7 linked regions of the Homo sapiens genome follow. The protein of the gene in region 4 interacts with the protein of the main gene of each other region in a biochemical or structural test. Each region holds a gene or a part of one and is shown on either strand. Other genes may lie near its edges. The genes, in order: TLE5, OGT, TRIM24, GTF2E1, GTF2B, ERCC3 and GTF2A1.

Region 1 (3,500 bases), on a different chromosome or scaffold from region 4:
GGCTGGAGTGCAGTGGCGCGATCTCGGCTCACTGCAACCTCCACCTTTGGGATTCAAGCGATTCTTCTGTTTCAGCCTCCCAAGTAGCTGGGATTACAGGCGTGCACCACCACACCCGGCTAATTTTTGTATTTTCGGTAGAGACGGGCTTTCGTTATGTTGGCCAGGCTGGTCTCAAACTCCTGACCTCAAGTGATCCACCCGCCTTGGCCTCCCAAAATGCTGGGATTACAGGCGTGAGCCACTGCACCCAGCCCCGGTTTTTTTTTGTTTTTGTTTTTGTTTTTAATGGTAGCAACAAATGCACATTTTAAAAGAAAACTAGAGAAAAATTGGTGGCGGCCAAAGCATCCCTAACCCGGCACACTCTTCTCCGGTGGAGCAAAATGCCAGGTTCCTGGGGTATCCTAAGATCCATGTGCATTTATGGGATGCTTACTGTATGCCAGGTACTGTTCTAGAACTTTTCTTGTCTGAATTCATTGACTCTTCTCCACCCCACCCTGCGAGGTTGTTAGTGGTACCTCACAGAGGAGGAAATGAAGCCCAGAGAGGTAGTGGAGTTTGCCTAGAGTCACACAGCAGGGAAGACGAAGGGCTGAGCTTTGAACCCAGTCCGAGAGGGGGTGGGGATGGCAGAAGCAGGTAAGCCACAGCCAGGTCCGCAGGGCCCCTGTGCTGGGTTGGATTTAAGTAGGTTAAAGGACACCTCCCCCACCACCATCACCAGTTCTTTTCCTGGACTGGGAGGCCCTCCTGCCTGCTCTCTTCCCTCCGGCCATGACGCCCTCATGGGGGCTTTGAGAAACGCCCCACAGCTCATCCTTCCCGGGAGGGCCTGTAGGAAGCTCTGGTGTCAGCCACCCGGACTGGCCAGGTGGAGTGGGAGAAATGGTGTGTTTTGTCCCAGCTAAAGAAAAAAGGCTGTTAGGAAGGACTAAGAGGGAGCTGAGGGGTCTGCCTGGGAAGTCCAGGCCCCCCATGAAGCTAGGGTCCCCTTGGGAAGTCCAGCCGGGAGCCGCCTTGCAGCCCCAGACCCTCTCAGCCTCTTTGTACGTTCTATTTGGGTCTGGAAAATTTTCCCCTGTGGTTGAGAGCTTGGGCTGCTGCTTGGCTGTGTGACCTTGAGCCAGTTCCTCACCCTCTCTGGGTGTCCACTGTGTCATCTATAAAAGGAGCGTGACAATGACGTTGCGGGCCTCGTCGGGACCGTGAGAGGTGAAGGCTCGTGAGACTCTCAGAGCTAGCGTTACCGTGCCCCCTCTAACTTCTGTTGTTCCTATAATGTTACTATAATGTTGCTTATTTCCCCCCAACCAGATCTGCAAGGGTGGTTTCATCACCCCCTTCTTACAGTCAGGGGCCCTGATGCTCTCCCCTCCCCGCAGCATCACAGAGAGCTCAACTCTTACCAACTTCCCTGCCCCTCAATTCAATGTCCTCAGCCCCTATGAAAGTTTACGGCTTCATTGACCAGGCACGGTGGGTGGCTCATATCTGTAACCCCAAGCACTTTGGGAGGCCGAGGAAGGAGGATTGCTTGAGCCCAGGAGTTTTTGAGACCAGCCTGGGCAACATAGGGAGACCCCCGTCTCAATTTAAAAAAAAAATTATTGCTTGACCCTCTGAGAATTGGCTGATCTTGCCCTTACAGGGGACTTGGAGCCTCAGTTTCCTCCCCTGGATAACGGAGGGTGGGGGGCTCCCGCCCAGCCGCCACTAACCACCCCATCTCCCCCCTGTGCCTCCTCAGCCTCAAGCTCGAATGTGACAAGTTGGCCAGTGAGAAGTCAGAGATGCAGCGTCACTATGTGATGGTAACGTCACTCCGCCCCCAGGTCCAGTGTTGGGGGCGGGCGACAGGGCCCTCCACATCCCCTCCACCACGGGCAGCTGCTCCCTCAACCCCGGCCACCTCCCCTGGGAAGCGCGAGGATCGGGGCCTGTTCTCCATTCAGCCGGCCCCTGCTGGGCTGAGCCTGCCTCGCTAGCCTGGCAGATGGCCGAGGCAGTGGCCGAGGTGCCAAACCGCCGGGTTGCAGACCGGCCCTGCCAGGTCCCCCGGCTGTCCTTGGCAGCGGAGGAGGGAGGAGAGGGAGGCTCACCGGCTGTGAAAGCCAACAGCCAGGAACTGACGTGGGGGAGCAGCCGAGTCCCTCCCCACCGCCAAGGTCCCAGCGTCCACACGCTTAACCCCTTTGGGCCCGAGCTCAAAGAAGAAGCCTGTGGGAGGGGGTCTGAGCCCTACCCATTTCGGGGGGCTGATGTGTGACACTGCATTGCTGCTGCCAGAACCACTTGCTCGGTTTTGTAACTGCCAGGTGACGATTTCTGCATCAAAAATCCCCTCCCTTACCCACCCTTGGCCTGGCCCTCGAGCAGCGATGCTGGGGTCTCAGCCCAGTACCCAAATCTCCCAGACTGTGGGGGAGGCAGAGCCAGACCCTGACCCTCCCAGCCAGAAGAATAGGGCTGGGGTCAGAGAGAGGGACCTAGGACCTGCCTGAGGAAGACTATATGGAGAAATGGGGCACACAGCTGGGGTCTTGCAGGATGAGTAGGAGTTCACCAGACAGAGACAGAGAAACTACGTGAAGGCCTGGGAATGAACTTGGTTTTCCCCCAGGGGTGACAGGGAGCCATGGGAGGGTTTAGAGCAGGGGAGGGGCAGGGTGAGATCTGGGGCTTGGGGTGGGGGTAGCTGCTGGCCCCAGAGCCAGCAGGCTTTGTTTACCCCTCACTGTTTATACCTAGGCAGGCAAACTTCCCTGGCGTCTGGGCCCACCCGCAGACAAGACATAGAAAGATACAAGATTAGGAGCCCTGGAATGCGTGTTCTCGCGGTGCACATGGAGTGGGGGAGGAGCCAGGCCAGGGCTAGGGACCTAAAGTGCCCCCAGTCTCCATCCGCAGCCCCAGCGGCCCCCTGCCCCTCTCCAGGGCGGGCTGGGATGCTGGGTGTGGGCGTCTCTCCCTCCTCTTTCCCTCCCACCTGCCTCTCCTTTCTTTCCTGCCCTCAGCTGTCTCTTGCTGTCTCCCCCCTTTGTCTGTCTCTGCCACTCCCCTATCTCTTTGTCTCCGTGTCCCCCCATCCTTCCCCACCCCCATCTCCCGCTCCCCCTCTCTCTCCCCCATACAGTACTACGAGATGTCCTACGGCTTGAACATCGAGATGCACAAACAGGTACGCCCATCTCCTCCTCCTCCTCCTCCTCCTCCTCCTTCCCCCTCCTCCCCCCACCTCCAGCCCCGCCTTGGGCACCCCCAGGCAGGTAGCGGCCGGCCCTCGGCTGGGCACCAAGCCAGCCCGGTTATCCTGTTACCTCCTAAGCCCTCCCCAAGCTCCCGCTCTCCTCCCCCCCGCCCCGCCTCTTTTTCAGGCCTCCCTGGGAGTGTTTCTCCCGGTGGTGGGGAGGGGCAGAGACCTTCCCCACAGCCTACGGCCCCCAGCCCTCCCTACATTCGCACAAGCGCTTACTACCTGCCAGGGGCCTGAGTGG
Region 2 (3,500 bases), on a different chromosome or scaffold from region 4:
TATGTACATTTGAGTGACTTTTTGTAAGTTTTATTGCAATACTAATCTAGCTAGTTACCCACATAAAGTTTTAGGGAGCCTGGTATGTACTGCCACTGGGCCTTGGACCCCATTTTTCCCAGGGCTCAGGGCTCACCTCTGTACCCAGTTGTCACAGTAAGTTCTTTACCTTTATTAATCAGGTTGATTCTACTCTTATTGATAGTGTACCCTCTTACACAGCTGTGGTTCTTGCCATCTTTAACTCTAATGCCCTTGGCTCAGGTTTCCAGTTGCCTATGTGTGTAGCAGAGCAGTCATTGCTACTGATAGTGTACCCAAGCAGTAGGACTATGCTGAGAAGGAAAACTAAAGTGAGAGATGGAACCTTGCTATTTAATATCTAACCTGCTGTTAGCAGGAAGCTTATTGTTGTACCCTACCAAGGAAGTGAGATAGTACTAAAATAAATCATGGGATTACCTCTTGAATGCATTGAATGGCCATGTGTTGTCATCTGGTTCTATGTTTCTTCTAGTGGAAGGTGCTGCTTTACTTATTTATTACTGTTTTTACCAATAAGAATGAAAATGGGATTGTGCAAGTTCCCTTGATTTCAACTAAACATGCCATAGTGATCATATTTTAATTTATTTCAGGATATCTAAAGTCTTAACTAGATTTAAACTTACTGTCAAATGCCCGTTGTCAGTTCAGTACTGGTAGAACCTTGCGTCTGTTCCTTATGTTCTTGTTGACAGTGCTTAAATGCATCATTAGTACATTGTGTACCTGAATCATAGATGTAGTTGGCATTCTATGAAAAATGGTTAAAGAAACTCAGGTTATTTTGGTTTTGCAGCAGTGAAAGAGTAGAATGTTAAGGTGGTATCTTTGGTAACCTTGGTAACTGTTTTCAACAGTGTTTATCTTTTTAAGTTAATAGATATGTCAATTTAGAAGTTGTTCTCTGTGACTTGATTATAGAAATTATCTTTGAGACAGCTATCTCATTTTTTTCATTCTGAATTATCTTCTATAATTATAATGTTGGGTGTTTTCATAATTTTGGTAAGATTTTAGTCTGTCATTTTTTTTTTTTTTTTGGAGACGGAGTTTTGCCCTTGTCACCCAGGCTGGAGTGCAGTGGCGCGATCTCGGCTCACTGCAACCTCTGCCTCCTGGGTTCAAACGATTCTTCTGCCTCAGCCTCCGAAGTAGCTGGGATCACAGGTGCCCACCACCATGCCTGGCTAATTTTTTGTATTTTTACAAAAACAGGCTTTCACCATGTTGGCCAGGCTTGTCTTGAACTCCTGGCCTCAACAGATCCGCCTGCTTCAGCCTCCCAAAGTGCTGGGATTACAGGCGTGAACCACTGTGCCTGGCAGTCTGTTGTATTTGAAGGTGTTATTGCAGATAGCACCTTGCAGTGACAGCACATGTTCTTTGACATGGTGACTCACTAGAGTTGCCTATACCTGGCAATTCCTTTTGCAAATTATGTATAAAATTGTCCTTTCTGTAACGGCTATAACCCTGAGTTGTTTTAAACAGGTCTGTTTCTGAATCTATAGGTTGTTGAATTGTTGCTTGTGCTTTGATTGTGGATGCACAGAATGGAGAGCTGCTGGCATCCTGGCCATCATGTGTGTTCCTGTCATGTTATTTGTTACTTGTTACTGCTGAGCCTCTCTTATACAGCTGCACTGTAGAAAACCATATATTTCGATTCTTCTCTGTTCTGCTTTCTGTTGTATATTTCGATTCTTCTCTGTTCTGCTTTTTGTTAAGGTTGCTGTGCAAATGTCACATTTAAATATGTGAGTGCTTATTGTGCATACAATGCTTTGTTAGGAAATGGGGAGATGTGTTGTGGGGGAAGTTGCGGGTTATAATATAAGACAGGACCTGACCCGTAAAGGAAAAAATGGTGTAAGTTCCTTGGATGATAATTGTTGGAGAGTATTAATCAGAAGATTTCCTCGAGTGGGTGCTTATGACCTAAGCATTCTGTAGGAAGGTAAATAGCAAGTAGACTTCCTTGGCTGAAGTGGTGAGTCAAGTAGTAACAAGAAGTGAATGTAGTAGAGGAGAGTCAATTGGAAGATTTATAAAGAATAGAGAGGCTGAGGAGTTTGAATTTAATTTGAGAGGCAATTGAGAATTACTGTAGGTTTTTATCGACCTGATTTTACTTCATATGTATGTACGTGTCTAGATGTTGTGGCTGGTGGGGGTGGGAGGCTCTAGGAGGAAAGGCAGGAAACTGATGCAATCTTAGGAGAAATAGTTCTACAGGAAAATCTTGCTCATTTCTATCTCCTTTTATTCTCACGATTTTCCCTTGTATACAGTGCCCTCCTCCTTTGTCTATTAAAACCCTACTCATCCTTCAAGGCCCAGCTTAAACTTCTCTTATGAGCTCATCATCTAGTTCTCTTAAAATTCTTTACTACTGAGTGGGCATTTAGTGTGTGCCTTGTCTTTTCACATAGATTGTAAGCCCCTTGATGATAAGGATTCTATATCTTTTCCCTATAGTTCCAGGCATGTTATTGAATTGAGTAACAGTTTGCCTGAAATGTATTAACCTGGGATGGATAAAATGGGCTAGTTTTGAGAAATATAATTGTCAAAAACATTTTGATTTGACAGATGAAGCAGAAGTGATGTCTTGGGTTTTGAACTTTTGGGAGAATGGTGGTGCCCGTGCGTTTTCTAGAAATTAGCTGTTCATGCACATAGGTTTGGATCCCCAAACAGGAGAATTGGATTTCACCGTTACATTTAATATGATGTTTTAGCTTTTCCTAAAACTGCCTTATTGATTATCTTATAGTAATCTTGAAGATAATGTATTTTTAACTATGAGCATTGTGTTAACTTGATATAGTATACTGTAATGGATCTAGATGATAACAAAATATAGATATGCTGTCAGGACTTAAGTGGCATCCATCCAAGAGTTCATAGAAACTAGAGGGTAATAAAATTACGCAACAGCTGGCTACTATGTATGGCCATTACAGTCATTGTTGGAGAATTATTGCAAGACTTCTGATTATTATGACTTAGAAAAGGCATAGGAATTGGTAAAAGTCCAAACATGTATAACCACAATTATCAAGTAGTAGAAGGAGCTTGTATGCATGGATTGGATTATGCAGTCATGGTCTGCCAAAACAGGGGTAACCCTTTCAGTTTAGAAAAAAACATAACCATACAAAGTAGATAGCAAGATTATATAATTCATTACTTCTGAGAGTATAGTGTTAAAAAGTGCTCAGGCTAATTAGAGGAGAAGTCAAATAAGATTAATGGTACCTTTGATGTTTTGAGGATTAGTATTAGCCTTTTGTGCTTGAAGTGATGGGAGACAACCTTACTCTCTAGAACATCAGTCATTGCTTGAAGGACAGTATTGAGTCAGGGAGATGATGGAACTGACCCAGTATGGCTGACCGTAAGATTGTTGTGTGGCAGCCTGTACTTTGTTGGCAGACTTTTTGGTTCACCTG
Region 3 (3,500 bases), on a different chromosome or scaffold from region 4:
GGGAGACGCCCTATGTTACCCAGGCTGGTCTTGAACTCCTGGGCTGAAGGGATCCTCCTGCCTTGGCCTCCTAAAGTGCTGGGATTACAGGCATGAGCCACTACACCCAGCCAGTATGACTATTCCAAAGGCAGAAAGTCTGCATTCTGTAGACAGATCTCCATATATAAGTTGATTCTGTGTTTGATCCTTTTTTTAATCTAAAGTTAGATAACCTACTGTCGTGCACATATACATACGCACCTAATGTTAAGAAGCTTTTAGGAAATATCTTGTACTCTTTACTTGGATCAAATTACCTATAAGATTGTGAAAATAACTTTTTTATTTTCATTATTTGTTTTTCAAGTTGAGATCAATTAATATTTCCTAATAGTTGCATTGTTAATCTTACCAGAGTCATTCCATTTTTAAAATAGTTTTGTATACTTTAAATGAGTAGAATACATATATTTTCTCATGCATGGATGGTTCATAGGAAAACTTACATCTAATCCCCATAGTTTTATTTGGCTTTTAGGATTATCCCACAAAGTAAACAACTTTCCTTGTATTAAGTTCTCATGAATTTAGTCATTCTAGTACTTTTTGTACTCTTTGAAAAATATTGGCCAAGTATTGCCAAAAGAATATTAAAACAAAAATGACCCTGTATATTAACCACCTGGCCCGATTTCCCTGCCCCCGAACCCACAGAAAGTAAAATTCTTTCTGCTTTTTCCTCTGCAGTCCTCATACAGGTGAACCTTTTTCCACCAGGCTTTCTTACCTGAAATTCCTCTTAGGAATTACAGAATAAGCTGAAATGAGTGACTGTTTTCTCATTCCTCCCAAAGGTGCTTCATAACTAGTACCATTCTAGGTGCATAAGCAAGAAATTGATTCATTATATACAAACTGTGCCCTATGGCTGTAGGACTTAATTATCTTATAGAATCCTGGTTGAACAAGAGTAGAACTATGTTAAAGAATTGAACTGGATTTTAAGCCCAAAGACATTGGTGGGAAATTTGGTATATGTAGGCATGAAAGAATTTTTGTGTCTAAAGTATTAAACTCTTACTCATTAGGGATTTGTAAATATTTTTGCCTGGCAATGAATAAGGAAAAGAAGTGTTATTTGTATTCCTGTTATATTAAAGCAAGAATCTTTAGGGTTCACCTTTTCTCCTACAAAACAACAGTAATGTATTCAGTGAGGTTAGTGCTGTAGATATATGGACTTCGTCTATTTAGCACATACCCAGAGTATCAGTTGTTAAAGTATCCCTTTCAGAGGATCCACTAGGTCCTATCTATCTGTGTGAGGCTAGATTTTCTTCATATTTTTCAAGCAAAACCATATACCACAATAGATTGAATGCTGTTTAGGGAGACATTAAAGAGATTCGCAAGAAATGTAAAATTGTGATAGTCTTCTCACCAAGTTTATGTTTTTCATATGGCAAGCTTTTGTCGTTTATAAGAATTTTTTCAATTTTTAAGAGTGTGAATGACATGATATTCCTTTTGACTCCTGTTTTTGAAATAGCGTCCTCAATATTTTACTAAGGTGAAACACTAAGATAGTGAAAACCTTTATTCAAGGTTGTTTATGGGGAAAATATCTGTTAGAACTTCTCAAATGTGGTATCTATGTTTTGTTATTCGATAATAATTATTAAGTTATTGAAGCTTTCTTATAAATTTAAAAGTAGCTTTTAACTTGCAAAATCAGAATGCCCTGAAATAATTTCTTTTCTTGTAAGATTGACTGTTCAAGTACTATTATGCTGGACAATATTGTGAGGAAAGATACTAATATAGATCATGGCCAGCCAAGACCACCCTCAAACAGAACGGTCCAGTCACCAAATTCATCAGTGCCATCTCCAGGCCTTGCAGGTAAAGTGGGCTTCTTTTGATTTTTGTGAAAGTTTTTCTAGTTTTCACTTTACTTGGAATAAAAAATTACCCCTCTTCTCCTTTTTTGTTGAATGCTTAATCTGAGTTTTTCACTATTTAAAATTAGTATGCTTTCAGAGAAAACAAAGGTTAAATTTCTTTATCCTTTCTTTCTTTTGAGTCACAGTCTCGCTCTGTTGCCAGGCTAGAGTGCAGTGGTGCGATCATAGCTCACTGCAGACTCACTCCTGAGCTCAAGCGATCTCCCACCTCAGCCTCCTGAGTAGCTGGGACTGTAAGTATGCTGCTCTACCAAACGTGGCTAATATTTTTTGGTAGAGACAGTCTTGAACTTCTGGCCTTAAGCAATCCTTTCTGCCTTAGCCTCCCAAAGCTTTGGGATTACAGGCATGAGCCATCATACTAGGCCTTCTTTACCTTTTCAATTTCAACAGAACTTCTCACCATTATAGTACTTCCAGGGGGAAATTGGTGTTATATTCTTTCTTGTTGATAAGTTGCCTGTGATGTGGTCTTTAAGATGTAATTTGCCTAGGGTCAAAATGTATTAGTGACAATAAGTAGCAATCACTCTTCTGGTGATTTGTTTGGTGTTTAATTGTGTTTGTGAATCTTGACATACCTACTCATTTCCTCTGAGAGAAAAACGCTAATATTACTTCTGAGGACGTAGGTACCTTAAACCAAAATATGAAAAGAGAATTTAAGTCACTCAACAGTCACATGAACACAATTTAAATGGGGATGCCCGTTTTAAACAAACTTATGACAAAATATAGCAGAGAAACTGTTTATCATATGACAAGTTTATACAAATAAGGAACACATGTGGTATTGCCAAAGGACATGATAAGTAGATAATTCCCTAAAGAGGAAATACATTTATCCAATATAGCAGATGAGACAAAAATTCATTCTTACTAGTGGTCATAAGAAAAATCAAACAAGATAGAATTTCTAAGTTACTGAATTAGCTAAGACTTAAATAATAAAAATAGTCATTGAGAATGTGATGAGAGGTACTCTCATACATAGGTGGAAGGGGTATGAGTTGGCAAAACATTCCTGGAAACCATCATAGCAATATTACTAAAGTTTACATTTATCCAATATTGTACTGTGGGCAAAGTACCTTATATGTATTACCTAGTAGGATATTTGCTTCAAGGGGCTTGGAAAATGTATGTACCCTTGAACCTAGTAATTTCCATTTTAATATGCCAATTATAAGGAAATAATTAGGAACTGGATAGGCAGATCGTATTTATTAATATTTATATTACTATTAAGGCATTATTTGCAGTAGTTAAAATTTTGAAGCAGTGCCCAAATATGAGGATAAAAATAAATTAGAATGTGCTCACTTGTAAACAGATTATTTACCTATTCAGACAATGCTTATGTAGAGTTTTTAATGGCATGCTCATGGACTACTGTTTAGTGAAAACAAGTATACAGAACCATATAAAAGATGTAAAAGTATGTTTAAAACTGGAAAGAGATATATCAATCAACCTTAGCAGTGTTTATATATGGATGGAGAAGTTATGGGCTACTTAAATGTTATATATTTTTATAGTTTTCAACTATTCTAA
Region 4 (3,500 bases):
CAAGATTTTACTTTCTAAGTTTTAGTCTAAGTTACTGCATTCAAGACTTTGAGTGATGATGGTTTAGGAGTATGTAGAAAATGGGAGGCAAAAATGGATGACGATGACTCAAGCTGGAAAGTAGAGAGGAAGGGTGTCTCTATTTCTTGCTGAATTTTATCAGTGTAACAATCAATGTGCCGCTACTCCCAAGTTAATATATCATTACTAACATATCACGTGAGTTTGGTGATATGTTAGTGCCAAAGAATAATCAGTAGCTGAAAACCACTTGTTTTTTGGCGTTTCTCCTAGCCTCTTTTCCCTTCATAATTAGCATTTAGTATATGTATATACTAGAAATTGTGAAGGTAACGTGGAGTTTGGTAGTGATGGTAAAGCAGCTAATACCTCTACTGTGATTCTCTTTGATATATTAATTTTAATAAGAAAAGGTTTTCCAAGGCAACCATACTTTACCCTCCTTCTTCCTCACTGATTAGCCTGCCATGTTAGTTTTTTTGACGGAGTCTCGCTCTGTTGCCTAGGTTGGAGTACAGTGGTGCGATCTTGGCTCACTGAAACCTCTGCTTTCCGTGTTCAAGTGATTCTCTTGCCTCAGCCTCCTGAGTAGCTGGAATTGGGCGCAAGCCACCATGGCCAGCTAATTTTTGTATTTTTAGTAGAGACGGGGTTTTGCCATGTTGTCCAGGCTGGTCTCAAACTCCTGACCTCAAGTGATCTGCCTGCCTCGGCCTCCCAAAGTGCTGGGATTACAGGCATGAGCCACTGTGCCCAGCCTGTTGTGTTATTTAGATTGAAGTTGTTTTAGATTATACAGTAGTTAGGCTATACTACTACTTAATAAATTTGTTTTCCCCAACTTGGCTTCTTGCCTGTTCTTAAAGCAGCCTTCTTTTCTTTGAACTTAGGAAGAAAACTGAATAAAATAAAATTATTATTAACCAACATTATATATTAAGCTCATAAGTTTAACATTCTAGTTTACAGTTCCTAAAATGATAGAATATGAATCATATGGGCCTTAAATAAGTTATCTGGTCTACTTAAGTTTTGTAAATATTTATTTCTGCATAAAATAGGATAGTATGTTGTCATGTCTGAATTTATCCTAAGTTTCTTGATAGTAGAGCAGACTCTATCCAGTGAATGTATGAAGTGGGTCTTAACACTTGATTTTCCTCAAACTTCAAGTCATGTTGATATCTTTCACAATTGTATCGACTTCAATCATGTTCTCATTACTATACTGAAGAAAGTTCTAATTCCTTTTGATTCTGTTTTCCTTAAACAGTTCTCTTTTCCACTGCTGCCACCTCCTACAGTTTTTGTTTATTTTTGTCTTTTTCTGGACCATCTCTAATTGTAATATACTTTACTTGAGACATAGTGACCAGAATGATACATGTTGTTCATGCATGGATTCACCATTGATTTGAGTTTTATTTCCAGTATCTTTCTGGTTTTTACTTGAGATTTTGTTTGTTGCTTTGGTTCTGGAAGCATGTTAAGACCAAAAACTTCTAGAAACACGTAGAGGTACTTTTTAGGTTCTTCTGTGCCTTGAATCCAATAGCTTGGATCATATCTTTCAGTATATTTTAGATTATTTTTCTGCAGGCTGATTTTCTTGCACTTGCTGAAATAGAAATAGATCTGCTACTTTTCTGCCCACGTATACAACCTTCAGCTCTTCCTATATTTTTTTGCTGCAACTTGGCCTTTCAGTACCCACAATTGCTTAGCATCAATTCCGTGAATATAGTTTCCCAGTATACATCTTCTTTGTAATTTATAACTCTGTTGAAAAAGGCTGTTCCTAGAACCACTGTTTCTACTTTACCATCCAGAAATTTGCTCATTTATCCTTGTTTTTTGTTTTCTGTCTTCATCTGTAACAGAATAATTCTTTTTTCTCCAAACCTCTCAAGACCCTTGTCAGAAATCTGTTACGTGTGACTTAATTTAGTTTACAAAACTAATTTTCTTTTTCCCTAATTTAATACTTAAACATTAATCAAAATACTGTGTTGATATTATTAAACTATTTGGAACATTCTTTTAGAAGCAATTATTGTCTTAAAGGCTTGCATGCATTCCTTACCTTCTTTTCTTTCTGTTGTAGTGCTGCATTGGCAGTAAGCTCTAAGGAGGAGGTTCAGCCTTTGACAATATTTTGAAGTAGTTAAGTTTGATTTTAACTCTCATTTTGACAGTCATGTTATCAAAAGCCTCTTTTCTCTGACCTAAACTTTTAACTTGTCTGCTTCTGTTTCCCTTTCTCTCTCTTATCTGCTCAGTATCTCATTTTAGGAGTTCTGTGCCTTCTAAAATGTCCAGGGATTTAGCTAATTCATTTTAATGTGTTAATGAGAAGATGCTTTCACTTTATCCATAGTCAGAATTGACCATTTCTGAGTCTTCTCTTGATGACGATGATGATAGATAACACTATTCTAAGTGCCAGGCCCATTCTAGACACTTCACAGACATTCACTTAATCCCCACAGTAATCTAGTGAAGTAAATACTATTTTCCCCCTTTCTGTACTTGAGAAAATTGAAGCGGAGAGATGAAATAACTTGGCCAGAATCATACAGCTAAATAGTGTTAGGATTTGAATCAGGGAGTCAGGTTCCAAACAATACTTTTAATCTTTTTATGTATTTTAAATGGCAGTATGTTTGGTAGTAGTATCAGAATGCAGAATGCAGATGGTTTTCTTAAATATTTCATCTGCAGTATATCAGGTAAGATATGTACACAAAATGATAGGAGGTGTGTGGTGAGAGAAGCTTCATTCCTAAAATTAGATTCTTTTTTTATAAAGAGTTTTAAGTATGCTTAGTTTGCTTCATGAAAATAAAACTCACATTTATTCACTCATTTGTCAGATGTTTATTCAGTGCCTAACAGAGTGGCAGGTACTATTTAGGTAAATGGGATATATCCATGAATAAACAAGATAAATATCTGTTGTGGTAGAACCTACATCCTTGGAAAGGGGGTGACAAAGACAATAGATGTAAGTTATTCATTATGTTAGGAAATAAGTGCTATGGGGGAAAAATAGAGCATTGGGAATGTAGGGATAGGATACATTTAAAAGGTAACATTTGAATAAAGACATGAAAGATGGAAGGGAGTTAGCTGTGTGAGTACCTAAAGGAAAAATATTCCAGGCAGAGGGAACAGGTAATGCAAAGGCCCTGAGGTAGGAGTGTGTCTGATATGTACAAGGAATACCATGGAGGCTACTGTGGCTAGACAAGAATGAGCAGGGGAAAGAAGTAAGAGGTAGATGATCAGGAAGGATTCCAGATGATGTGGGACCCTATAGGCCATTGCAAAGCTTTTGGCTTTTACCTTGAGTGAGATAAAGAGCCATGTTTTGATTTTCTGTTATGCCAGCTACTCTAGTCGATTCTTCATAGACATTATCTTATATGTTTTTATTCAGAACCTTAGAAAGTAGATGCTTTTATCACCTCATTTTACAG
Region 5 (3,500 bases), on a different chromosome or scaffold from region 4:
GCACTTTGGAAGGCCGAGGCGGGAGGATCACCTAAGGTCAGGAGTTCGAGACCAGCCTGATCAACATGGTGAAACCCCATCTCTACTAAAAATACAAAAATTAGCTGGGTGTGGTGGTGGGGCTTGTAATCCCAGCTATTCAGGAGGCTGAGGCAGGAGAATTGCTTGAACCTGGGAGGTGGAGGTTACAGCAAGCTGAGATTGTGCCATTGCACTCCAGCCTGGGCAACAGAGCAAGACTCCATCTCAAAAAAAAAAAAAAACCCACGTTTAAGACATCATTCCTCAACGTCAAAATGTTAAGAAAATATGTTTTGCTTTTTAAGCAGCTCATAAAAAAAATGTTCAGAGACATAACCCTGTGAACAAACCTAATTTTTTTCCCATTTGAATTATTTTAGTTTGTACATCTTTTATTCTTACAAGTTCTTTTTTCTCCCTGAATATATTCCTCCTGATCATTTTGAATACTCTTTTCCTTTCCAAACTTACCTTTTTAAATCTTAGGGGTCAGGGAGGCCATGCTTTGTTTCTCACTGCTTGGCATGGGATTCTACAGATAGACACACTGTAAAATACGTGTTGGCCATCAGCCTTTAACATTCTGTGAAGGTTGGTTTTTTCCCATTTTGCACAGTATTTTACAGTTTCTTAATACAAATTCTGAAATAAGTAGATGTAAGTAATTCAGCCTTCTAAAGCTATGTTTAAATTTAGTGTTGTAGGAAAACTTTCACCAGAAGTATTAAGTGAATTTCTTTTCCTTTTTTTTTTTTGTTTTTTTTTTTTTTTTTTGTTTTTGAAACAGTCTCCCTCTGTTGCGCAGGCTGGAGGTACAGTGGCACAATCTCAGCTTACTGCAACCTCCACCTCCCGGACAAGCTATTCTCATGCCTCAGCTTCCTGAGTAACTGGGACTACAGCCACGTGCCACCACGCCCAGCTAATATTTGTATTTTTAGTAGAGATGGGGTTTCACCATGTTGGGCAGGCTTGTCTCGAACTCCTGGCCTCATGTGATTCGCCTGCCTCCACCTCCCAGTGTGCTGGGATTATAGGCACAAGCCACCACACATGGCCCACTAACTCCCTTTTAAAGTTAGAAGTGACTACTCCTTTCTAAGTCTTTGAGGATTACAGAAGTTATTCATGAACAAATGCATGTAAAGAAATTCATAAACTAGGTGCGGTGACCAGCCTCCTGGCCAACATGGCAAAACCCTGTCTCTACTAAAAACACAAAAAAATTAGTCGGGTGTGGTGGCACATATCTGAATCCCATTTAGTAGGGAGGCTGAAGTAGGAGAATCACTTGAACCTAGGAGGCAGAGGTTGTAGTGAGCTGAGATCATGCCACTGCCCTCCAGCCTGGGTTGATGGAGTGAGGCTCTTTTTCAAAAAAAAGAAAAGTTGGTGGCAGGTCGCGGTGGCTCACCTGTGTAATCCCAGCACTTTGGGAGGCCAAGGTGAGTGGATTGCTTGAGGCCAGCAGTTCAAGACCAGCCTGGCCAACATGGCAAAACCCCATCTCTACTAAAAATACAAAAATCAGCCCAGCATGGTGGTGCACACCTGTAGTCCCAGCTACTCGGGAGGCTAAGAGACAAGAATCTCTTGAACTTGGGAGGCAGAGGTTGCGGTGAGCCTAGATTGCACCACTGTACTCCAGTCTGGGAGACAGGACTGTCTCAAAAAAAAAAAAAAAAAACAAAAACAGAAAGTGAATTACTGGCCTCAATAACTTTGTAATACTTTATTCACAACAGCCTTCAGCTTAGGCTATATGTTGAAAAAAGTAATAAATGATAGGAATAATTAGAGAAAGAAAGCCAATCATTAGTTATTTGAAGGAGCCATTATCCATTCCCTTTGGCCTTCACTCACGTTTTAAGGAAATTTTGAGTCTTTTAGTAAAATTGAGAAGTTGCAGCTAGGCAGTTTGTCCTTGAGGTACATTCCTAGTTGTAAAGTTTATTCTAATGAACAACATGAAAACATTAATCTTGTTGCTTTCTGCTTTTTGGCTTTATATGTAAAGTCTTCTTCAAATGTAAGGTCTTTCTCTTCCCTGCACAGCAGGCAGTTGACATTCAAATAGTTGGCATTTATTGGTATTTAGATGTAGAATAATGTAATGCAGTGTGAGATACGGAAATTTAAAATTAGCTAATTGTACAATGATGGCAGGCATTCACAGTGAAAATCACTAAAACCTCACTGATTTGAATCAACTGAAAAGGTAGTAAAATGAATTTGTATTAAAAGGTGTTTAGGCCAGGCGTGGTGGCTCATGACTGTAATCCCAGCATTTTGGGAGGCTGAGGCAGGTGGATCACCTTAGGTGAGGAGTTTGAGACCAGCCTGGGCAGCATGGTGAAACCCTGCCTCTGCTAAAAATACAAAAATTAGCTGGGCATGGTGGCAGGTGCCTCAGCTACTCAGGAGGCTGAGGCAGGAGAATTGCTTGAACCGGGGAGGCAGAGGTTGTAGTGAGCCGAGATCTTGCCATTGCACTCCAGCCTGGGTGACAGAGCAAGATTCCATCTCTAAATAAATAAATAAATGATGCTTAAAAATCCATTTTAATAAAGCATTCATAATACTTAACCAAACATTGTAGTGGCAGTCCTTTAGTATTTCTTTTAATGACTTTGAAAGGAAAAAAGGGACAGCGACTTTAAAGGGTAAAAGTGGATCTGTTAGGATTCTGTACAATGTTCGTTTGAGCTCAAAATATTTAAGTATGTGCTTGTATCAGTGAAAAACATCTCCGTATGCTATAATAAGTAGCTGTTTGATCTCTGATGTATTAAGTAGAAAAAAAGATTGTAGAACAATATTTATAGTATCACATTTTGTTTTTAATAAGGACCCCTTAACAGAAGTTAGCTAGGGGAGATTTTGCATGGGAGCTTTCAAACACAGAAATATAAAGTGAATTTCTTTACAAGAACATATTTGTGGAGTACTTTTGTGATCCTCAGAAAGATTTATAAAGAAAAAGGAGGAGTCAGTTGTAAATACAATACCCAGTATAAGATGATAACACTCCTAATACTAAGACCTGAACACTATTCATATATTTTATGTTAGTTAAACCCTTTAAAACATTGACAACCCTGTAAGGTAGTAAGTACTAGTAATCATTTTTATTGTTGCTTGTTACTGACTTTAGCTCCCACTTTTTTTTTGAGACAGTATTTGGTTAAGTATTATGAATGCTTTATTAAAATGGATTTTTAAACATCATTTATTAATTTATTTAGAGATGGAATCTTGCTCTCTCGCCAGGCTGGAGTGCAGTGGTGCGATCTCGGCTCACTGCAACCTCCTCCTCCTGGGTTCAAGCGATTCTCCTGCCTCAGCCTCCTGAGTAGCTGGGACTACAGGCGCATGCCACCACGCCTGGCTAATTTTTTGTATTTTTAGTAGAGATGGGGTTTCACCATGTTGGCCAGGATGGTCTCGATCTCCTGACCTGGTGATCCACCCGCCTCGGC
Region 6 (3,500 bases), on a different chromosome or scaffold from region 4:
ATTGTTTCCTCAGCCAAGATGTTCCGAAGGGTGCTCACCATCGTGCAGGCCCACTGTAAGCTGGGTTTGACTGCGACCCTCGTCCGCGAAGATGACAAAATTGTGGATTTAAATTTTCTGATTGGGCCTAAGCTCTACGAAGCCAACTGGATGGAGCTGCAGAATAATGGCTACATCGCCAAAGTCCAGTGTGCTGAGGTAGCTGGGCCTGGGCTGGGGGCGTCTGGGAAAGGGCCTCCTCCTATGGGCAGGGGAGTGATCAGATCGATTCCTCATGGGCAGACACAGGTCAGGACTTAGGCTCACCTGCTACCACTTCATACAGGATCCTCAGTCACCCTGTGGTTGGGTGGTACTAGACCCACTTGCTGCATATCTTCTGTCTTGTCACATATCTCACATACCCCTGAATTTGTGATGATTCTTTTTCCTAGCCATGGGGTTTACCAGTCATGGATTTCTGTGGGTGAGGATTAGCATTCAGGGCACAGGGATGAATGAAGGCCCCTGATACCACAGTGCTGCCTGGGAGCCTGGCAGCAAAGGGCTTTGCTCTGATAGCCCCAAGCGCCTAACTGATATGCTCCCAGCCCTGCTGGGAAGTGTGTGAAGAGGTGGCGGTACTCAGTAGCAGTGCTGACTCGTGTGTGGAAGTGTGGCTTAAATGGAAGAATTGCTGACACTACCAATTGAGAATCTGGTTTCGCACACTTGCAGCTGGTGTGAAAATAACTCCCTGGATGTGATTGCATTTAAAAATCTTTTAAGTGGTTAACATGTGAAAACGTCCAGTTCAATAGGAGGTATTAGGTTGGGTTTAGTTTTGTGCATGCATTTATTTTCAGTTGTACTGATTTCTAATTCACATAGCATTTTTTTTTTTTTAAAACAGGGTCTCACTCTGTCACCCAGGCTGGAGTGCAGTGGCGTGATCTTGGCTCACTGCAACCTCCGCCTCCTGGGCAAGTGATTCTCCTGCCTTAGCCTCCTGCGTAGCTGGAATTACAGACATGCACTACCACACCCAGCTAATTTTTGTATTTTTAGTAGAGACTGGGTTTCACTGTGTTGGCCAGGCTGGTCTTGAACTCCTGGCCTCAAGTGATCTGCCTGCCTCAGCCTCCCAAACTGCTGGCATTACAGGCATGAGCCACTGCACCTGACTGGTTTTGTTTTAAAGCTAATTCTGCTAGAGAAAGGTCTTCAAAAGTTTTAAATTGTGTGGTGTTTAAACTTGTAAAATGACCCCTGGTTCTTACTGTATTACAGGTCTGGTGCCCTATGTCTCCTGAATTTTACCGGGAATATGTGGCAATCAAAACCAAGAAACGAATCTTGCTGTACACCATGAACCCCAACAAATTTAGAGCTTGCCAGTTTCTGATCAAGTTTCATGAAAGGAGGAATGACAAGATTATTGTCTTTGCTGACAATGTGTTTGCCCTAAAGGAATATGCCATTCGACTGAACAAGTAAGAATTGAAAACTTGGAGCTTCCTCCAGGCCAGTTTCTCTTCCCCATTGAGAGTGCAGAAGGTGGCTGTTGTTTTGTTTTTTTGTTTTTCTCTCAGGAACTTCTTGGGCTCCAAAGATCTTGTTCTGTGGCCCTGGTCTCAGAAACCAGGGAAGACCTGAAGTAGGTGGTTGGAGTCAGAGGTTAGAGCATAGAGAAAAGGGGGGCTAGTCACCTTGAGCCCAAAGAACAGGGAGCAGAGACTTGGACTGAGCTGGGTGGGGCCCCATGGAAGATCTGGGCTCCAAAGGTGGGTGGGAGTTGGCATTTGGAGCTTTGGGCTGTGTGAGCTCTGTGGGTGGAGAGGAGGCCAGACTGGATGGCCTAGGGGCTGGGAAGGCAAGATGGGCTGGGCTGGCATCCCAAGTACGGACTGGCATCTGGAAGGAGCTTAGAAATGCCCACGCAGTATCCTCATCAACCCATGGCTCCACCCAAATATTTGTGCTTAAAACCTGGCTTTTGTAAAGCTCTGCCAAGTAAGGAGGAAGAGGTCTGCGCTTGCTCCTACAGTGACACAGGACTTCAGGTGCTGTAAGTGTTGCAGAAGGCCAGGCCCTCTATGGAGACAGGTCAAGCTATGTGCTATGGGTACTATACATAGGTTTTACTTAATCCTCACTTCAGCCATATAAAATGTTGTTCCCATTTTATAGAAGGGAAGACAAACTCATAGAAAGATTAAATTTCTTAAGTTTCTAAAATTATACCTTTATTTAATTTAGAAAGACTTTTTAATCCAAGTCAACATTTAGATTATTGTGAAAAACAGCAATTCCCTGCTTCTATTTTCCCACCCACAATTCTATTCCTTGAAGACAGCCGCTTTTGACTCTTTTTTGTTGTTTACCTTCATATTTCTTTCTTTCTTCCTTTTTTCTTTTTTTTTTTTTGGAGTTAGGGTGTCACTGTGTCACCCAGTCTGTAGTGCAGTGGTGTAATCACGGCTCACGGCAGCCTTGACCCCCTGGGCTCAATCAATCCTTCCACCTCAGCCTCCCGAGTAGCTGGGTCTACAGGCACGCACCACCACACCCAGCTAATTTTTGTTTTTTGTAGAGATGGGGTTTTGCTATGTTGCCCAGGCTGGTCTCAAACTCCTGAGCTCAAGCAGTTCCTCCTGCCTTGGCCTCCCAAAGTGCTGGGATTAGAGTCATGAGCCACCACACCTGGCCAGCCTTCATCTTTCTAAGCAATAGCTTATGTAGTAATTTCTTGATGATCAGTTATAGAAATTGCCTATTAACTTCCTACTGTAGGAGTTGAGGGTTTAGCTTTCTTACATACACCACTCTCCCCACTCCTGTTTTCTCTCCTACCATTCTCCCAATATGGGAATAGCACAAGTTGGGGGTTACTTTAATATTCAGTTACATTATTTTGACTGTGTAAGTATGTTCAGGCAGAGCTGTAGAGTACTATTACATTTTCCTTTTTTTTTTGAGACGGAGTCTTGCTCTGTTGCCAGGCTGGAGTGCAGTGGCGCTATCTCAGCTCACTGCAACCTCTGCCTTGTGGGTTCAAGTGATTCTCCTGCCTCAGCCTCCTGAGTAGCTGGGACTACAGGCACCCGCCACCACAGCCTGGATAATTTTTGTATTTTTGGTAGAGATAGGGTTTCACCATATTGGCCAGGATGGTCTCGATCTCTTGACCTCGTGATCTGCCTGCCTCGGCCTTCCAAAGTGCTGGGATTACAGGTGTGAGCCACCATGCCCGGCCTTACATTTTCTTTTTTGTAAATGTTTTTTTGCCTTGGAGTTAATAATTGCCTTGTCATTGTTTTTGCTTGGTTTTCTGTGCATTGAATAATTATTCCCCTCCAAAGTCTTCACATAACCATAAACTCAGTAGGGTCAGGTAATTTCTCAGTTCTGTTTTTCTGTTTCCCCAGTGGGATCCCCACCAGCACTCCATTCGCTTACTCTGTTCTGGCCTGCTTGCTGTCTAGGACTAGAGACACCACCAGCTGTTACCATGGGGTTTC
Region 7 (3,500 bases), on a different chromosome or scaffold from region 4:
TCTTTTAGTGCCACACCTTAAAAAGAAACCCCAAACTAGCTCCTCAGGAATATAGTTTTATTTTGCAAGCATACCATCTAGCTGAAATTGTATACACATGAATATATGTAGACTTTTCCTGTTGGGCTGAAGTGTGTGCTTATAAATGTGTTTAGTTTTTAAGCTAAACATTCAGTTAACAGTCTGTGCATTGATTAGCATAGGGCAGGTGGTGAGGACCTGGATTTTTATTAAACAGTTTAGTAATTATAAAAGTTTCTTGTGTTTACTAGTAAAGAATTTTAAAAATCTATTCTAATTCAACAAGTTTTTAAAATCAACTTTGTAATTTGAGGGGAAAATTTGGGGGGAAGAGGTGGGTGGGCCACTAAGTTACCTCTCTTTCATTTGGTGGCCCTTCCAGGCCATTGAAAATAAAGACGTTGGCTCCAGTTTGCACATTGGGAAGAAAGCATAGAAATTTGACTTGTATATTAAAAATAATAGAAATGTAATATGTATATTAAGAATGCATAGGTCTGTATTCTGTAAGGGGCTCTGAAGAACAATATGGCACTGCTGTGTTCAGTGTGAATTCACTGCCTGGGAGAACTGCAGGAATGCTTGTCTTCACCATTGTGTTCTTACAACGAATTCAACTTTCCATGGTTTATCTTGACAAAATTTACATGTGTTTAGGTTACTTGTATATTGATATATTTTTTTAATCTTCAGTTTTTGTCTTCCTTTTGCCTTTGTGTTTTCAGAAGTAACACATGAACACTTTTTAAAGTACATTACAGAGAAGAAAACTGTGAGCTATTATATAGTGTTTCTTTTTTAACACAAATCTTTTAACTTTAAAAAAAGGCAAAAATTTTTTTTTTCTACTTCCCACCCAGCTTACCACCTTGATCTCTTTAACTTATGTTCTAAACTTTGGTGTTAATGGTGGTGTCTAGCATGCTAGTAGTTAGATTTTATTTAGATGCCATAACTGGTAATACAGCTTTTATTTTGACTATATTAATTTAGTTTTTTGAGGGGAAGTTTGTTTATTCTGTGACTCTCAAAGCACACAGAGGTTTTAAAATATATATTATTAAGACTGAGAGAAGAGGAAATGGGAGGGAGTAACATCACAGAAGTGCTGTTGTTCAACTGTTCTTCAATATAGTTGCTAGTAGGTTTGTATTTACTCAGTAAGGAAGTCAGTGACCTGAACTACCTATAAAAATTCAGCAGTGCTGCAGTGTTGCTTAAGTGAAACCCTTTGGCTATCTAGTAGTTTTTATGCTACTGAAACTTGGATTACTGTATGATATTCAGCTTGTCTTGGGCCCTCTATGTAGACAAACATTCATATTCATAGTAGTGTTGTATACTGGCCTGTTTTTATAACTTTATTTTTCAAATATTAACAACCACTGCTTTCAGAGTGGTTATTTTGTTATTTTTGAAGCAGGAAATAACCATTTGTATTTGCACCTGCGTATTGCATATGAATTATGGTATACTTGGCAAATGCTTTTCTTTTACCTGTGAAAATTCTGAAAGCTGGTCCAAGCTACATTGCATACCAAATTGTGCTCTTATATATTATTTGCATCGTGTCCTTTTTAATCAAATAGCATGTTTTAGTTTTATTATAGTAGCTTTTGCTGTAAGAATGTCACTTGCTTATCTTTTATTGTACTTGAATTCTTAATCATGCTTTTAACATTGTATTTAACAAATCATTTCGTATTAGGTTCCATTAAAATGTCATTCCTTTGAAAAGGCAAGGGATTTCCACTTTCAGAATTTGAAAATGAAAGTAGCATGTTTATCTAAAGGCAGAAAATAGTTCGGACTTGGTATTATGAAAATAAGTAATGGTTTCTGGAGAGGATTTGTTTAGATTTGCACAGATGGCGATGGCACCTTTTACTTAAATTAACATTAATCAACAGTGCTAAGGAAAATTTACACAAAATTACAAGATAAAACATGGAAATGTGTGCCTTTCAGTATACAAACTCTTGCTTGGTGGCCATTTGGGTAATCAGACCATTTGAATGCCTGAGAGCATGTTTAATTTCTGTGGAGTGCCACATATGGCTAAAACAACTCTTTAATGTGCAATTAATTTCTAGAGTAAAATGTCTGTTATGTGAGGGGGATCTTTATGTTGGGCTTTTCTATTTTTTAAATGTTCACATTTCTTTCTGTTAATTAAAATGCCATCATAATGTCACATTTACACTGTTGCCTCTTTTAAAAGCAAAGCCACTTTCTTGTTCTAAGATTACATCAAGACTTGAGCAGTGTGTAGTAATTAAAATGTGTGCTTAATGAGCATAATAGATTCTGGTTTTAGGAAATAACATATAGCTTTTATATGAATATTTTCTTTTGCTATAATGAAAGTCACAGATTTTTTTTTTCCTGGCTTTTATGGAGGAATGAAAAGAGTTGTCTCCCTCTAAGAGTATACTATTTTTGATTCTCATAGCAATAATGTCACCATTCTTATCAGAGGGTAAATACCCCTTGTATAGGAAAACAGACATAATTTCCTCTTGGGAGTTCTCTTTATGACTTAGCATTTTCTTCTACTTGAGAAAATTCCTGTTTTTCCGATTATTTCATCTTGAACTTTCTTTTTTTTAAGCTTTTGTGCAATGTAATAGTTTGTTGATCCATCTTTGTACATTTTCATTTTATTTCATGTCTTTCTCTCACCTACCTGTCAGAATCAGCTATAGCAGATTTTGAATTCTTTAGTTAAAAAATAGTTGCTTTACTTGTTTCCTCATGAGTTTGTTAAATAGCTTTGCATTTTAGTCCTCTATTATGCTATGAAAATTATTACGAAGTTTATATTGTTCCCTTTTTAAGCCTGCCTTACTCTTGTCTTTTGTCATTGTCTATGGTTTAATGAAGAACACACCAAACTAACATTTTTGTTTATTTTGAGGAACAAAAAAACTTTTCTCTTTTAAGGGAAGTTACTACACATTGAGTTAGTAACTACTCTTTCAGTCAAGGTTCCTTAATCAGTCCAGTCTACATCAGGACTATGACTTGGGGGGCGGGGCTAATCCTTTTTGCTGTTCTGAGCTACTATTGTCAACTGCTGTTGTACATACTGTTATGTGTAATGGCGTAAATATATTTATTATGTTTGTAAAATTCATTGCAGATCAAGGTTGCTCTTCTGTGATATATGGGATATTATGTTTTAAAGACCATCTTGGAATACAATTAGAGAACTTAGTATTTTGATGTACTAAGACCTATTTTAAGTTTAATATTCTACTTTGCAAAAACTTTAATTAAAGATGTTATTTAAAAAAAAATGTTGCTTGCTTTGCTTACTAGTATATGGCATTGTTATAGATAATTGAATAAAATACAATTTAGAAAGGAAAATGCTTTACATTGTTAATGAGAATTCCATTTAACAACAACAAAAAGATGCTAAATTCTGTACCTTAAAGATAAGTAGATTGAGATGTCAATTTGAATTAGTAAACTGT

What was found.
Region 1: the proteins of GTF2E1 (region 4) and TLE5 form a complex in vitro, tested with the Homo sapiens proteins (one study listed by BioGRID).
Region 2: the proteins of GTF2E1 (region 4) and OGT form a complex in vitro, tested with the Homo sapiens proteins (one large-scale study listed by BioGRID).
Region 3: of the proteins of GTF2E1 (region 4) and TRIM24, one has a biochemical effect on the other in vitro, tested with the Homo sapiens proteins (one study listed by BioGRID).
Region 5: the proteins of GTF2E1 (region 4) and GTF2B form a complex in vitro, tested with the Homo sapiens proteins (2 studies listed by BioGRID).
Region 6: the proteins of GTF2E1 (region 4) and ERCC3 form a complex in vitro, tested with the Homo sapiens proteins (2 studies listed by BioGRID).
Region 7: the proteins of GTF2E1 (region 4) and GTF2A1 form a complex in vitro, tested with the Homo sapiens proteins (one study listed by BioGRID).

The regions. Positions count from the first base shown.
Region 1 is NC_000019.10:3,055,996-3,059,495, reverse strand, and holds part of TLE5 (TLE family member 5), read left to right. Parts: intron 1-1,753; coding exon 1,754-1,817; intron 1,818-3,139; coding exon 3,140-3,184; intron 3,185-3,500. UniProt on the Homo sapiens protein: Transcriptional corepressor. Acts as a dominant repressor towards other family members. Inhibits NF-kappa-B-regulated gene expression. May be required for the initiation and maintenance of the differentiated state.
Region 2 is NC_000023.11:71,539,604-71,543,103, forward strand, and holds part of OGT (UDP-N-acetylglucosamine--peptide N-acetylglucosaminyltransferase 110 kDa subunit), read left to right. Parts: intron 1-3,500. UniProt on the Homo sapiens protein: Catalyzes the transfer of a single N-acetylglucosamine from UDP-GlcNAc to a serine or threonine residue in cytoplasmic and nuclear proteins resulting in their modification with a beta-linked N-acetylglucosamine (O-GlcNAc).
Region 3 is NC_000007.14:138,571,759-138,575,258, forward strand, and holds part of TRIM24 (transcription intermediary factor 1-alpha), read left to right. Parts: intron 1-1,748; coding exon 1,749-1,884; intron 1,885-3,500. UniProt on the Homo sapiens protein: Transcriptional coactivator that interacts with numerous nuclear receptors and coactivators and modulates the transcription of target genes.
Region 4 is NC_000003.12:120,777,244-120,780,743, forward strand, and holds part of GTF2E1 (general transcription factor IIE subunit 1), read left to right. Parts: intron 1-3,500.
Region 5 is NC_000001.11:88,853,568-88,857,067, reverse strand, and holds part of GTF2B (transcription initiation factor IIB), read left to right. Parts: intron 1-3,500. UniProt on the Homo sapiens protein: General transcription factor that plays a role in transcription initiation by RNA polymerase II (Pol II). Involved in the pre-initiation complex (PIC) formation and Pol II recruitment at promoter DNA.
Region 6 is NC_000002.12:127,277,145-127,280,644, reverse strand, and holds part of ERCC3 (general transcription and DNA repair factor IIH helicase/translocase subunit XPB), read left to right. Parts: intron 1-13; coding exon 14-198; intron 199-1,269; coding exon 1,270-1,472; intron 1,473-3,500. UniProt on the Homo sapiens protein: ATP-dependent 3'-5' DNA helicase/translocase. Binds dsDNA rather than ssDNA, unzipping it in a translocase rather than classical helicase activity. Component of the general transcription and DNA repair factor IIH (TFIIH) core complex.
Region 7 is NC_000014.9:81,175,960-81,179,459, reverse strand, and holds part of GTF2A1 (transcription initiation factor IIA subunit 1), read left to right. Parts: 3' UTR 1-3,500. UniProt on the Homo sapiens protein: TFIIA is a component of the transcription machinery of RNA polymerase II and plays an important role in transcriptional activation. TFIIA in a complex with TBP mediates transcriptional activity.